Linked DNA regions of Homo sapiens: regions 2, 3 and 4 are each reported to be linked to region 1. The links are microRNA targets in miRTarBase. Many come from high-throughput screens and were not tested one by one. Region 1 holds a microRNA gene; each other region holds the end of a gene's coding sequence. Distances are from middle to middle.
What was found. The annotated mature microRNA hsa-miR-766-3p reads ACUCCAGCCCCACAGCCUCAGC and lies in region 1 at 1,406-1,427, shown strand. An mRNA with a match to its seed (bases 2 to 7 or 8) in the 3' UTR can be bound and repressed. Matches are read on the target gene's strand: a 7mer-m8 pairs with bases 2 to 8, a 7mer-A1 pairs with bases 2 to 7 and ends in A, and an 8mer does both.

Region 1 (4,624 bases):
CCTGGGCTCTGTTCTCAGCTCAGCTCTGGCCTCCTGCTAAGCCTAGGGTAGGCTCAACCTCAAGGCTGGAAACCCCCAAGCTAGGCAGCAGCAGTTGTCAAGCATGCTGTTATGGCTGTGAAGGGATTCTGGGTCCTTTATTACTCATAATTGTGTTTCACTTTGAGAAACAAAATTCGAGGCTGAACAACATAGTGAGACCTCATCTCTACTGAAATTTAAAAAAAATTAACTAGTGGCCGGGCGCGGTGGCTAACGCCTGTAATTCCAACACTTTCGGGGGCCAAGGCAGGTGGATCACCTCAGATCAAGAGTTCGAGACCAGCCTGACCAACATGGAGAAACCCCGTCTCTAGTAAAAAGACAAAATTAGCCAGGCATGGTGGCGCATGCCTGTAATCCCAGCTACTCAGGAGGCTGAGGCAGGAGAATCGCTTGAACCCAGGAGGCAGAGGTTGCAGTGAGCTGAGATCTCGCCTTTGCACTCCAGCCTGGGCAACCAGAGCAAAACTCCATCTCAAAAAAGAAAAAATTAACTGGTGCTGTGGCGCACACCTGTAGTCTCAGCTACTTGGTCGGTGGGTGGCCTAAAGTGGGAAGATTACTTGAGCCTGGGAAGTTGAGGCTGCGGTGAACCCTGATCGAGCCACTGCACTACTGCAGGCTGGGTGACAGAGCAACACCCTGTCTCACAAAAAAAAAAAAAGAGAGAGAGAAAGGAAAGGAAAGAAAAAGAAAGTAAATAAAGAGAGAAAGAGAGAAAGAAATAAAAAGGAAGGAAGGAAGGGAGGAGGGAGGGAGGGAATTCCAGTGGAAGGAAGGAAGGAAGGAATGGAGGAAGGGAGGGGAGGGGAGGAGAGGAGAGGAGCAGGGAATTCCAGTGGATTCAGGATTATCCCTATCATAAATCACTCACCACTTACTCCCTTGCATCCTACTGTGCTTTGTTTTTTTTTTGAGACAGGCTCTCACTCTGTCGCCCAGGCTGGAGTACAGTGATGCAATCAATTTCAGCTCACTGTAGCCTCCACCTCCTGGGTTCAACTAATCCTCCTGCCTCAGCCTCCCGAGTAGCTGGGACCACAGGCATGCACCACCATGCCCGGCTAATCCACTATGGGTTTTTTTTGAGTGGGAAAGAGAGGAGTGGCCTCACAGCTAGTGTGCCTGAATTGGCATGCCTGTGAGAGGAGCTTGCATGTGAGTGTTTTGTGTTACATGCGCTGTGATGGGAAAGAGGGTGCTATCAAATATACACAGAGGATTGCTTAGCCTGCCTGCCACCGAACAACTATGTCAAAAGTCCCCAGAGTCTTCACACAAGCCGTGGTGTATGAAGCTGCATCCTCAGGACCTGGGCTTGGGTGGTAGGAGGAATTGGTGCTGGTCTTTCATTTTGGATTTGACTCCAGCCCCACAGCCTCAGCCACCCCAGCCAATTGTCATAGGAGCTGGATTGGAAGAAGCGGAAGAAATCTGTTGCCTGAGTGGAGAAGACTGTACAATGTCCTGTCTCTCACCATGGGGGATTTTTGTGGCAGGAAATGAGAGTAATGAGGTCCCTGCCACCACCTTGAATTATGGGTGGCTCCAGAAAACCTTATTGTAGATTGAGGGGGAAGAGAAGGGAGAGCGAGGTCTTGTTGCATGCTATTTTCAACCCATGCTCTGATATCTCTCAAGGTTGTAGACTTTAATACTAAGAATTGCTATGTTATTTTAAATTTAATGATGTTCTTTGAATGGCTGAAAGCATGGCCAGGACCAGCAAAAAGGCCCAGTTACTTAATTGACTGAGCTCCATTAATTGTCCATTTGTGAGGTCTGGGGTTTGGTTCCCACAAAGGCAATTGACATTTGGGCCCAGTGAGAACACATGGCTGAACAGTAGGGTCATAGGAAGACCCACAGGCACAAGTCCATCCCTTCCTCTGAGACAGCAATGGTATTTCCATTGTTGCCATGTACTTTTACAGGAATCACCAGTGGTTGACTTGAGAGCAAATCAGCCAATGGTCTTGTTCAGTCACCAGCAGGGGCCTGAAATGGGGACTAACATAACTGGGAAACACTGTCCACCCTGGGAGGAAACCAAGCCCAATCAGAATATTATCATTAGATGAGGAATAAAGAGTTCTGACAGTGTGTATTTCACTGGGCTAAGCAGTCACCTAGCCTCCCAAGTATAATGGATGTGGTGAAATAAGAATAAAGTAACTCACGCCAATTGGATTATTAAGTACTTTACAATGTACAAGAAGAATTTAAGTTAGACACAAGTCAGTAAAGGTGGTGCTATGGTTTGATTGTGTCCCCTCCAAAATTCAGGTGTGGCCAGTATGATAGTATTAAGAGGTCGGGGCTGGGTGCAGTGGCTCACACGTGTAATCCCAGCACTTTGGGAGGCCAAGGTGGGCGAATCACAAGGTCAAGAGATCGAGACCATCCTGGCCAACATGGTGAAACCCCGTCTCTACTAAAAATACAAAAAATTACCAGGCGCAGTGGCTCATACCTGTAATCCCAGCTACTTGGGAGGCCGAGGCGGGTGGATCACCTGAGGTCGGGAGTTCGGGACCAGCCTAACCAACATGGAGAAACCCCGTCTCTACTAAAAATGCAAAATTAGCCGGGCATGGTGGCACATGCCTATAATCCCAGCTACTCAGGAGGCTGAGGCAGGAGGATCGCTTGAACCCAGGAGACGGAGGTTGTGGTGAGCTGAGATCACGCCATTGCACTCCAGCCTGGGCACCAAGAGCAAAACTCCATCTCAAAAAAAAAATAGCTGGGCATGGTGCCACACACCTGTAGTCTCAGCTACTCGGGAGGCTGAGGCAGGAGGATCACTTGAACCCGGGACGCGGAGGTTGCAGTGAGCTGAGATCACGTCACTGCACTCCAGCCTGGCGACAGAGTGAGACTCCGTCTCAAAAAAAAAAAAAAAAAAAAAGGTAGGGCCTTTAGGAATTGATTGGGCCTGGCCAGGCGCGGTGGCTCACACCTGTAATCCCAGCACTTTGAGAGACCAAGGCGGGTGGATCACCCAAGGTCAGGAGTTCAAGACCAGCCTGGCCAACATGGCGACATCCTGTCTCTACTAAAAATACAAACATTAGCTGGGCGTGGTGGCAGGCACCTGTAATCCCAGCTACTCAGGAGGCTGAGGCAAGATAATCGCTTGAACCCGGGAGGCGGAGGTTGCAGTGAGCCGAGATCGTGCCATTGCACTCCAGCCTGGGCAACAAGAGCGAAACTCTCATCTTAAAAAAAAAAAAAAAATGTGATTGGGCCATGAGGGCTTCTCCCTTGTTAATGGGATGAAGGCCCTTTTTTTTTGAGATGGAGTCTCGCTCTGTCGGCCAGGCTGCAGTGCAGTGGTGCGATCTTGGCTCGGCTAACCACAACCTCCGCCTCCCAGGTTCAAGCAATTCTCTGCCTCAGCCTCCCGAGTAGCTGGGATTACAGGCGCCCGCCACCACGCCCGGCTAATTTTTGTATTTTTAGTAGAGATGAGGTTTCACCATCTTGGCCAGGCTGGTCTTGAACTCCTGACCTCGTGATCCACCTGCCTTGGCCTCCCAAAGTGCTGGGATTACAGGCGTGAGCCACCACACCTGGCCGAAGACCCTTTTTAAAGAGACATCATGCAGTGTTGGGCTAGCTTGTCCTTCTGCTGTGTGAGGATGCGGCAAGAAGGTCCTCACCAGACCAGAATGCTGGTGCCTTGATCTTGGACCTCCCAGCCTCCAGAACTATGAGGAATAAATTTTTTTTTTTTGAATAAATTTCTATTGTTGATAAATTACTCAGTCTCAGGTAGTTTACTGTAGCAAGACAAAATGCACTAAGACAGATGGTGAATCTAGGAATGGACTCCCAAGGAAGGCTTGCGACTATCTCTTGTTGGAGTTTTCTGACACTGGGAAATCTGATATCCGAGGGCGCCTCATTGGAAGTCTGAGTGAGAGAGTCACACAGACTCTCCTGAGAGGCCTGTTTGTGTTTCAGCAGCAACACTGCCCTGCATCTATCAGAGTCTCTTCCCTGGGTCCACACATAGAAAATGTCACCACTGTCTGTCAGTTTCCTGCAGAGACCTGGGAAAAATAGCAGAAAGCCTGGCCTCAGATTTGGATCCCATTGGTAGGACCTAGAAGTATGGTCCGTGGTGGTGCGGGGGGAGGGTGGGTATCTGCTCTCTGCTCTGCTCGACTCTATTCTGGTTGTCAAAGCCATCTGTCTCTCAAAAGCAGTGGAACAGAGGGCCAGAGCCTGGTCCCCATGATTTCCTGCTTGTCATGGTTTGCTTCCTTCTAGCAGATGCCATGTAGCCAGGAGGCAGAGTGCGGACCACCCTAGGTGGCTGGGAGAGGTTGGCAGCCAAAGCTCGGTGGCCTCGCTGCTGCTTCAGAGGATCTGGGCATGGGGGTTAGGGACCTAGGCAACTCGTTTAACCTCCATGTATCCCAGTTCCCTCAGCTCACGAATGGATCTTTTAATCATTGCCATAGAAGGATGTTGTGAAAATCAAACCAAAGGAGAGCGCTGGGAAATGCCTACCTTGCATATACTTATCAAAGCAGACTGACGCCAGCTGCAAAGGAGCGTGCTGTGGGAGGGC
Region 2 (3,000 bases), not on the chromosome of region 1:
ATCCTGCTTCTGCCAAAGGTTAAAGACTAACCTCTTGACTTTGGGCAAATCACTTAACCCACCTAAATCCCATACTCTTCCTCCATAACCCTCCTCTTCCCGAACAACAGAAATCACTAACACCTGAAGAATACTTGCTACATTCTAGCACCCTTGCTGACTTCCCATTCAACATCTCCTTTTTCTTTTTTGAGACGGAGTTTCACTCTTGTAGCCCAGGATGGAGTGCAATGGCACGATCTTGGCTCATCACAACCTCTGCCTCCCAGGTTCAAGCGATTCTCCTGCCTCAGCCCCCCAAAGTGCTGGGATTACAGGCGTGAGCCACTGCACCTGGCCTCAACATCTCCTTTAATCTGCAGAAGTAATCCTGGGGAATAGGTCCTAGTCTTATCCCTATTTTACAGATTTATTATCCATCTGTGAAAATGGGAAAAACAATATTGATTCTGTTATAAGGCTTCTAGAAGACTGAATGGGATCATTTACAAAATGTGTGTGGCACAGATGTTTGTTTCAAAGTTGAAAGCCTGAAGCCTGTGGGCAGACCTAAGGTCAAGCACCAAGCCAGACCAGAACGTACCCCTGGACAATCACAGCAGGAGTCTCTTCCAAGACATAATACTCCACTCCCCAGTACCAGAGCAGTGCTTGGCAGAGGGCATTCCACAGGTTTCTAGGGGAACTTGAGAAGATGGCTTGTGATTTTCTCCCTGAAAAAGTTAGCAGCTCAGAGGGTTTCTTAGAGGATTATTCATCACCCAGTAAGATGTCTACAAACAGAGAAGATTGAAAAATTGTTATTTGGCAAAAAAACTTCTGAATTTAATAAAGAAATGGCAACAACTGGTACGTACAGTAATTCAAAATCTTTTCACTAAGCACCAAATAGGATAGTTCTCAATCTTCTCAAGAACCTCTTTGAAAGAACGCCTAAAACCTAATCAGTTTATTTAGGTTTTTAGTCAAGAAATACAAAGCTGCCAATCAGAGTTTCTAATTACCATGAGTGACCAGGTTAGCAACCTTGAGGTCATACCACATGAGCTTTTAAAAGCTTTGTTTAACCTATACGTTGTAACTGAGGGGATTTGTTGATGTCAGGCTGGTAATCAGAGATCCATGTGCCAGATACCATATACACACACCAAAAAGATACAGATTATATGGTCCTTATATATTTAAGGAGAATAATGTCTAATTCTCATGGGTGTAGAATTAGTGAGGGGCAGAGAGACAGATACAAAGCACTAACCCACCAGGGAGAACCTAGCGAGGGCAACAGAAGAGATCAAAGTCCTGTGCCCTGGGGATGCAACTGAATGGGTGCTGGGAGGCTTCAGGGATCAGGCACATGAGTGGATGTCAGTCCATGTGGGAAGGGGCCTTCAAGGCTGAAGACAACAAAATGAGTCAAGGCACAAAGCCACAGGAGTACTGCCAATCAGAAGACAGTGAAGCATTTGTTCTGGGTAAAGGGATGTGATCTAATAAGATATAAAACTCAGAAAACCTTACCCAATGAGAGCCAGAAATCTCCATTTCTTAACAGCAACTCAACAGGGAATCTGAGGCTGCCCACAAAACTAACGAGAGCAAAATACCCTCCCAAAGGCAGGGCACCACATGCTCTCTGTGGAGGCTCAGTAGCCAATGATCACCCTGCAGCCCCTCCCCACCCCCACCACGACACTCTAGTCCCTTGGAGTCAAATCCACTGGCAACAACCTTCCTTAACGGAAAATGTTTCCCCTCCCAAAATGTAGAACAAAAATGATACACGCAAACAAAACTCAAAACAGAAAGAGACAATCAGAGCAAGATTTAGCCCCTCACAGCTCACCTATGACCCCACTGTCATGCTACTGAAAACAGTGACTGACCCATTAAACAGATTCATTACTGCAGAATGTAATGAATGTTAGCGTATCACTGCTCCCACTATATCCTTCTATGTCAAAAAAAAAAAGTAAACACCACATAAAATATAAACATACCCCAAACAGAAGTCAGCATCAACCTAAGGATCCTACTGTAAGATTACTATACTAACCCAGGACAGTTCCATCGTCTTCTGACCTATTTACAAAAAAATCCTCATTCTGAGAGCTCTGGAAACATTACAAATATTGTATTAGATTCCTCTTCTTGAGGTAGTTCAAAGTCTTAAAACAGAGCAAATTTACATACTTTTCTACACACCACCGCGGGGTAATTATCATAAGGCCTACGACTAAAACTCCCATCTCCTGATTCTCAGGCTACTATACTCTTTTCCTTCGGATCAAACTACAGGAAACACACATAAAAAGATGAAAAGTCATGCAAAAATTTAAAACAAGCAAAGCCACCATAAAAAAGAATCTGTGTCATCATATTCACAGTCTAAACTTTGCTAAAGACAAAAAAAAAATACTTACTTGGTTTATCCAAGCTACAGACATGTTATAAAGTACTCAAGAAATTAACAGCTTATAAAAATAGTGGAAAATTTTTCAATGGGAGCATAAAACTAAAATGAACTCATTATCTGGCAAAGAGTTCTTCCAAAATGTCAAGTCCACAGGAAGGAATGTGTGGCCAACCTCACGCATCAGCCCACTCATAGGCCAACTGCCTCTGCCCTTTGCTCACGTTGGCTTCAGAGGTGCAGGGATGTTGGCAGATGCCTGCTCCAGGTAGGCCAAGGAGCCCTGAGGGATGTCGGCGGGCTTTTTGTGCTGCACGTTGATGTCCTCCAGCACCTGCTGCCAATGCCTCAGCTTTGTCAAGTGCTTCTGGACTAGTGCATCTTTCCGCTGTAATTCATTCCTTAGTTCTGACACATCCTGCAGATGAAAGTCATGGACTAAGTCAGAGCAAATGCAGGAAAAACACATACGGTTCTGGTTAGTTAAGAGGCTAACAATTCAAAACAAAGAGAATCCATTAAACCATATTAAGCCCATTACTCTGCTTGGCTCCACTATTTGATTAACCCAGATGACAGATTCTAACATA
Region 3 (3,000 bases), not on the chromosome of region 1:
CCCAAGCTGGAGTACAGTGGTGCAATCACAGCTCACTGCAAGCTGCAAACTCAAACTCCCAGGCTCAAACGTTCCTCCGGACTCAGCCTCCAGAGTAGCTGGGACAACAGGTGTGCCCCACAATGCCCAGGTAATTTTTCAGAAATTTTTTGTAGGGATAGGGTCTCCCTATGTTGCCTAGGCTGATCTTGAACTCCTGGGCTCAAGCAATCCTCCCGAGCCTCTGCCTCCTATAATACTAGGATTACAGGCATGAGCTGCTGTGCCCAGCCTGGGTCCTGTTTTCAAAGAGAGAGCTCACTTACAAATCTTTCCTGTGTACAGCAGAAACCAGGTTCCCAACATTTCTCAGTTCCTCAGAGCCAATAAACTTTTTGTCTGACAGTTACCGGGAGAACACAGAGCAAAGTCTAAATTCAGGGTGAAGACATCTAATTAATGCCCTTCAATTAAATTTGGTGGAAAATAAGAAATGGAGCTAGGAATAACTACTTTCCTTTTCCTCTTCATTGGGAAAATCCAACTGAATGATCTGAATGAGTTTAACACTACTTTCAAATAAATTACAAAGGAAGTTAATGTATTCCGAAGGTGGATGTGGATGAGGCAAATAACCCTGTCAGTCATCACACAGGGACTGTTGAATACTTGCCTTTGAAAACTCAGAAGGACACAAGGCAAATCCAGATTTATAAATTCACTAAATTTTGTGCTCCATGTATTTGGGCAAATTATAAATGAAACAATCATATCAAATCAAATTATGGACCAAAGTATAGAAAATTTAACCTGGCTACTCCCAGGAAATATAAGTTCATATTATTAGTGAGTGGAAGGTATCTTAAATTTGGACCCCACAATGGTAAAAATGTGCATATTGTGTAAAAGAGAGTCTAGGTAAGAAACAGCAAAGTGCGGAGTGATGAGAGTACAAAAGAGTATATAGATCTGAAGCTCAAAAGACGGATAGGATATAAATGAATACATAAATTACAGCCAAGGAAAATATTTGAAAATTATCTATGAGAACTCTGCCTAGCTGAACATGTCATGTTCATGTCTAAAAAGTTCGCATATATGATACGAACAATTAAAGATAGAAAGTGGCATTTCACTGAACATACTATTTTATGTGGGTGGAGAGAAAAATGGGAGAAATTTGAAAAAACCTCTTTATAAAGCTAAAAAACTTCTCTAATACACTAACTTTTTTACATGACATCTCTGGAAGCAGTTAATGGAAGAAATGAACTTTGCCTTTGAAGTCCAGCAGTATCAATAACTGTTACTTTCATAATCTTAATCTTCTCCTAGCAGTGTCTTAATGATAATTTAAACTTTATTTAGATCCTGAGAGCTATATCAAGTTAAATCCTCAAATTTTTAATTTTTAGCCCAATTTAAATTGTATATAACCTCTGGTTTTATTTTTAAATTGTGGCATAAATTTAAATCCTAATATACACTTTATTTTGCCCTAAATTTCTTTCTAAAAAGGAATTAAATCAAGTAAAGCCAGATTTAAACAAACAAAAAAAGAGACTTGTTAAGTTCTGTGTTGAAACTATTATATATAGAACTGTTTGTTTGTTTGTTTGTTTGTTTGTTTAGCTTACAGGGATAGGTGGCATTATAAGAAAGAGCTCGGGCTTTGTAATTTCTCTAGTACCTTCCCAGATATTGTTCCTTCAAATGCCCTTCAGGAAAAACAAATCCCACTTAAAATATGACTTTTTAAATTGCCATGAATGAATAATTAAAAACAAGTAAAATAAGTCACTGGCACTCATAGGTGGCATGGTTAAATGCATTTTTTTCCTTGTAGTTGTATATAACCTCTGGTTCCATTTATCAAATTTGGATGGGCTAGAAAGAGAATTAGTCTCCTCTAGGCAAACTCTTCATTTGATTGAAAGTTTATGCCAACTTTCTTATTAGTCAACCTCCAAGTTATTCTTTGGGAGAAATCAAAGCAATAAAATATCATTTCTTTAGCACAGTCATTAAAAAAAAACTTTTCAAGCTATACATATAATTCAAAACTAATTGAGCTAGCATGGAATTAAATCTTTACTGAGATTCAATGTAAAAACAATACTGCATTGGTTTGACTACGGTATAGCTACTTTTGTAAGAAGGAAAAAAACAAAACATTTGAGGTAACCTAGAAAGCACAGACAGAGCATATAATAGACATCTTAGAGATAAGCATTTTAAACATTTTTGCCAGTGCTTCTCTGAGAGCAAGTTCTTTAAACAGAACTCAACAATTTTTACAATTTTAAAAAAAATACATCCCTCAAAAATAGCCCATCAATGCTAAACCAAACTTTTTGTATTTCTACAAAAATAGATGCACATAGAGCTACAAACTTGTATTCCTGAAAGAATGAACATTTTAATGTGTGGTTCATCCTTTCCTGACAAGGTGGTTGGCTAAAAAAAAAAATCAAAATGAAACAAAAACTTAGCTATATATTGATAAAAGCAAGATAACAAAAGGAGAGAGTTGCACAGTTGGCAAAGGCTCAGATGAGGAAATAAACAAATAAAAATGCTTTTCTTCAATGTCTGGGACCCACTTTGCTTTCTCAAGAAAGGCCGAAAACCAGTCAACTGCGTGACACTTTGTCTTCTCCTTCTATGCCTTTCGTGTCCTATTGCTGAATGGAAAAACCCGACAGTATCTTTTCCCAGTGGGCCCTTGGATTTATGCTGCAACTTAACTCACTAAGATTGTGTGTTTCAGTACCACGGTGATTCCTTACTCTTGTCTTGATGCTGTAGACCTGGAACAAATGACAATGGGGAAAAAATAAAGAACATTAATACATATGGTACCAAAAATAAGCATAATCTGCAATACATTGGATATAGAAACCAAAATGATAATCCAGGCAACTGTGAGTTCTGACCTGAAGACATCATGATCTCTAAGCAAATTCTGTGCTGGAGCTCACAATTTTCAAAAAATCAACTAACACAGTATGTGACAAAAAC
Region 4 (3,000 bases), 72 Mb from region 1:
AATAATCATCAAAGAACTCACACAGGTGAAAAGCCCTATCAGTGTAATGAATGTGGGAAATCTTTCAGGGTGCACTCATCTCTTGGGATCCATCAGAGAATTCACACAGGAGAGAAACCTTACGAATGTAATGAGTGTGGTAATGCTTTCTATGTGAAAGCACGCCTAATTGAACATCAGAGGATGCATTCAGGAGAGAAACCCTACGAATGTAGTGAATGTGGGAAAATCTTCAGTATGAAGAAATCCCTTTGTCAACACCGGAGAACTCACACAGGAGAGAAACCTTATGAATGTAGTGAATGTGGAAATGCCTTCTATGTGAAAGTACGCCTCATTGAACATCAGCGAATTCACACAGGAGAGAGACCCTTTGAGTGTCAAGAATGTGGGAAAGCTTTCTGCCGGAAAGCACACCTCACAGAACATCAGAGAACTCACATAGGCTGGTCCTGGCGTTGTACAATGAAGAAAGCCTCTCACTGAAGACTTCCCTCACCATTGGATCAAGCTCCTTGGGGGCATATGATCACCAGGGCACACAGTGTGCCTGTGAAAATTTGGCACCTACATTTGTATCAAAGTATGTCCTGATCCCCTTAGGGGATAGCTCATTGTTTTTATTCAGATTTCCCTAATTAGTGGTGTGTGAACATCTTATCTGTTGATTGGCTATTTGGGTTTTTTCTTCTGTGCATTGACTGTTCATGTCCTCTGCTCATTGTTTTCAAATGGGCTGTTCATCTCTTGCTTTTTGGTTTAAATGTTGTTTTTTAACATATGAGAATATAAAAATCCTTTTTTTTTCAGTCATATGTGTTGCAAATATCTTCTCCCAGACTGTCGTTGGTTTTTTAAATTTTGCCATCTGTTTTCTTCTGCTGAAGTTTTATATTTTATTTATTTATTTTTTATTTTTTTGAGATGGAGTCTCACTCTGTCACCCAGGCTGGAGTGCAATGGCATGACCTCAGCTCATTTCAACCTTCGCCTCCCGGGTTCAAGCGATTCTCCTGCCTCAGTCTCCCAAGTAGCTGGGATTACAGGTGTGCACCACCATGCCTGGCTAATTTTTGTATTTTTAGTAAAGACGGGGTTTCACCATGTTGGCCAGGCTGGTCTCTAACTCCTGACCTCAGGTGATCCACCTGCCTCGGCCTCCAAAAGTGTTGGGATTACAGGTGTGAGCCACCGTGCCCGGCTAAAGTTTTATATTTTAATATTATCAGTTTCAAGGTGATAATATTCACCTATACTTTCCTCTAAAGGTTTTCCTTTCAACATTTAGAATTTTAATCTCCTGTGAGATTTTTTTGTTATAGCATGAAGTGTGCAATACATACTACTATATTGTCTTTATATAATTTTACATAAATGGGCTCACACTGTATTTAAAGTTCTGCAGCTTGCTTTTTTCATGTAATGTTACCTTTCCAAGATCTGTCCTTGTTGATAAGTATAGGTCTGGCTAGTCATTTATCTCTCCATTCCCCTAGTAAAAGACATTTGTATCTTTTTCGAGTTTAGTGTCTAAATCTAGAAGTGGAACTGATGGGTCATAGGATTTAGGCAATGTGCTGGTTATTAAGCTATTGTGTCCGAGCTCCAAACCCACCCTTCTTGACTGTGCTTTGTGACTTTACAAACCACATTTTGGCTTTGTCAACTGCTCCCTGTTGGGCCTTGCCAATAAGAGATACTAGATATAAACTTTGGGGCTGGAGAGGGAAGAAGGGACTTGCTCCTTTTTTTTCTATTCCTATTAGCTTCCTGGTCATTGGAGTGTCCGCTCAGCATTGCTTCTTCACTCAGACACCAGCAGTTCCTTGTCACAGCAGCAGTTTAATCTAGTTTGCAGCTTTCCAGCACTCACAGATGGTAGCCCATCCCCTCTGAGACACAAGCATCAGCTGGCTGGTGTCACCTCCTTAGAGATGTGAATTCTAGTCACATGGGACCCCTCCTCCCCCTTCTAAGTTTTAGTAATTTCAATTTATGGTTGGGTGCAGTGGATCATGCCTGTAATCCCAACACTTTGGGAGGCCAAGGTGGGTGGATTGCTGGAGCCCAGGAGTCAAGACCAGCCTGGGAAATATGGTGAAACTCTACCTCTACAAAAAAAATTCAAAAATCAGCTAGGCATGGGACCACACCTGTGGTCCCAGGTACTTGGGAGTCTGAGACTGGAGGTTGAAGCTGCAGTAAGCCATGATTGTGCCACTGCACTCCAGCCTGGGCAACAGAGCAAGACCCTGTCTCCCAAAAAATTGTCAACTTCTTCCCTTTGTTATTCCAGCCCAGCTGTTTTCTGCAGTTGCTACCTCCCTGATAACTTGAATGTTCTCTGTCTCTTCAGTTATTTGGTTTACAACCTCATAACTAGTTAAAATTATTTATAAGTTCTCTCTGTTAAAATAACTAGTGTGGTTTTTGTCTCCTAGTTGGGCTCTGATTGATACAGAAGGTTTTTTAACTTTATTAAGTATTGACATTTCCCTTCCAAATTGTATTAATTTATACTCCCATGAGCAGTTTGAGAAAGTTTTCATTTTGCCATTCAGCAGCACTTATTATCAGTCCTTTAAATTATTGCCAATCTGTAAGGTCTGAAATGGCTTTGAGCCTTGGCTTCCATGAATGTGGTTTGTCTTTCTTTCTTTTGTTCTTTTCTTTTCTTTCTCTCTCTCTCTCTTTTCTTTTCTTTTTTATTTTTATTTTTTGAGATGGAGTTTCACTCTTGTTGCCCAGGCTGGAGTGCAATGGCGTGATCTCGGCTCACTGCAACCTCCGCCTCCCGGGATGGAGCAATTCTCATGCCTCAGCCTCCCGAGTAGCTGGGATTACAGACACGCATGACCACACCCAGCTAATTTTTGTACTTTTAGTAGAGACGGGGTTTCACCATGTTGGCCAGGCTGGTCTCAAACTCCTGACCTCAGGTGATCTGCCCACCTCAGCCTCCCAAAGTGCTGGGATTACAGGCGTGAGCTACTGCGCCTG

Region 2: miRTarBase lists MED28 as a target of hsa-miR-766-3p. The part of its 3' UTR that is shown has no 7-base or 8-base seed match.
Region 3: the mRNA of VGLL3 is a reported target of hsa-miR-766-3p. The part of its 3' UTR that is shown has no 7-base or 8-base seed match.
Region 4: miRTarBase lists ZNF157 as a target of hsa-miR-766-3p. Seed matches in the 3' UTR shown: 7mer-m8 at 949-955.

The regions. Positions count from the first base shown.
Region 1 is chrX:119,643,566-119,648,189 of GRCh38, reverse strand. It overlaps MIR766 (microRNA 766), which reads left to right and starts at 1,342; the gene lies at 1,342-1,452. All of the region lies in intron 5 of SEPTIN6 (septin 6), which reads left to right. RefSeq lists an enhancer at 109-288.
Region 2 is chr4:17,623,429-17,626,428 of GRCh38, reverse strand. It overlaps MED28 (mediator complex subunit 28), which reads right to left. Exons shown (of 4, transcript NM_025205.5): 4 at 1-2,828. The coding sequence ends at 2,631. Among named protein-coding and RNA genes, the nearest start is that of MED28, 10 kb to the right of the region's middle.
Region 3 is chr3:86,944,279-86,947,278 of GRCh38, forward strand. VGLL3 (vestigial like family member 3) reads right to left here. Exons shown (of 4, transcript NM_016206.4): 4 at 1-2,789. The coding sequence ends at 2,746. Among named protein-coding and RNA genes, the nearest start is that of VGLL3, 45 kb to the right of the region's middle.
Region 4 is chrX:47,413,109-47,416,108 of GRCh38, forward strand. It overlaps ZNF157 (zinc finger protein 157), which reads left to right. Exons shown (of 4, transcript NM_003446.4): 4 at 1-1,390. The coding sequence ends at 486. Among named protein-coding and RNA genes, the nearest start is that of SNORA11C, 26 kb to the left of the region's middle.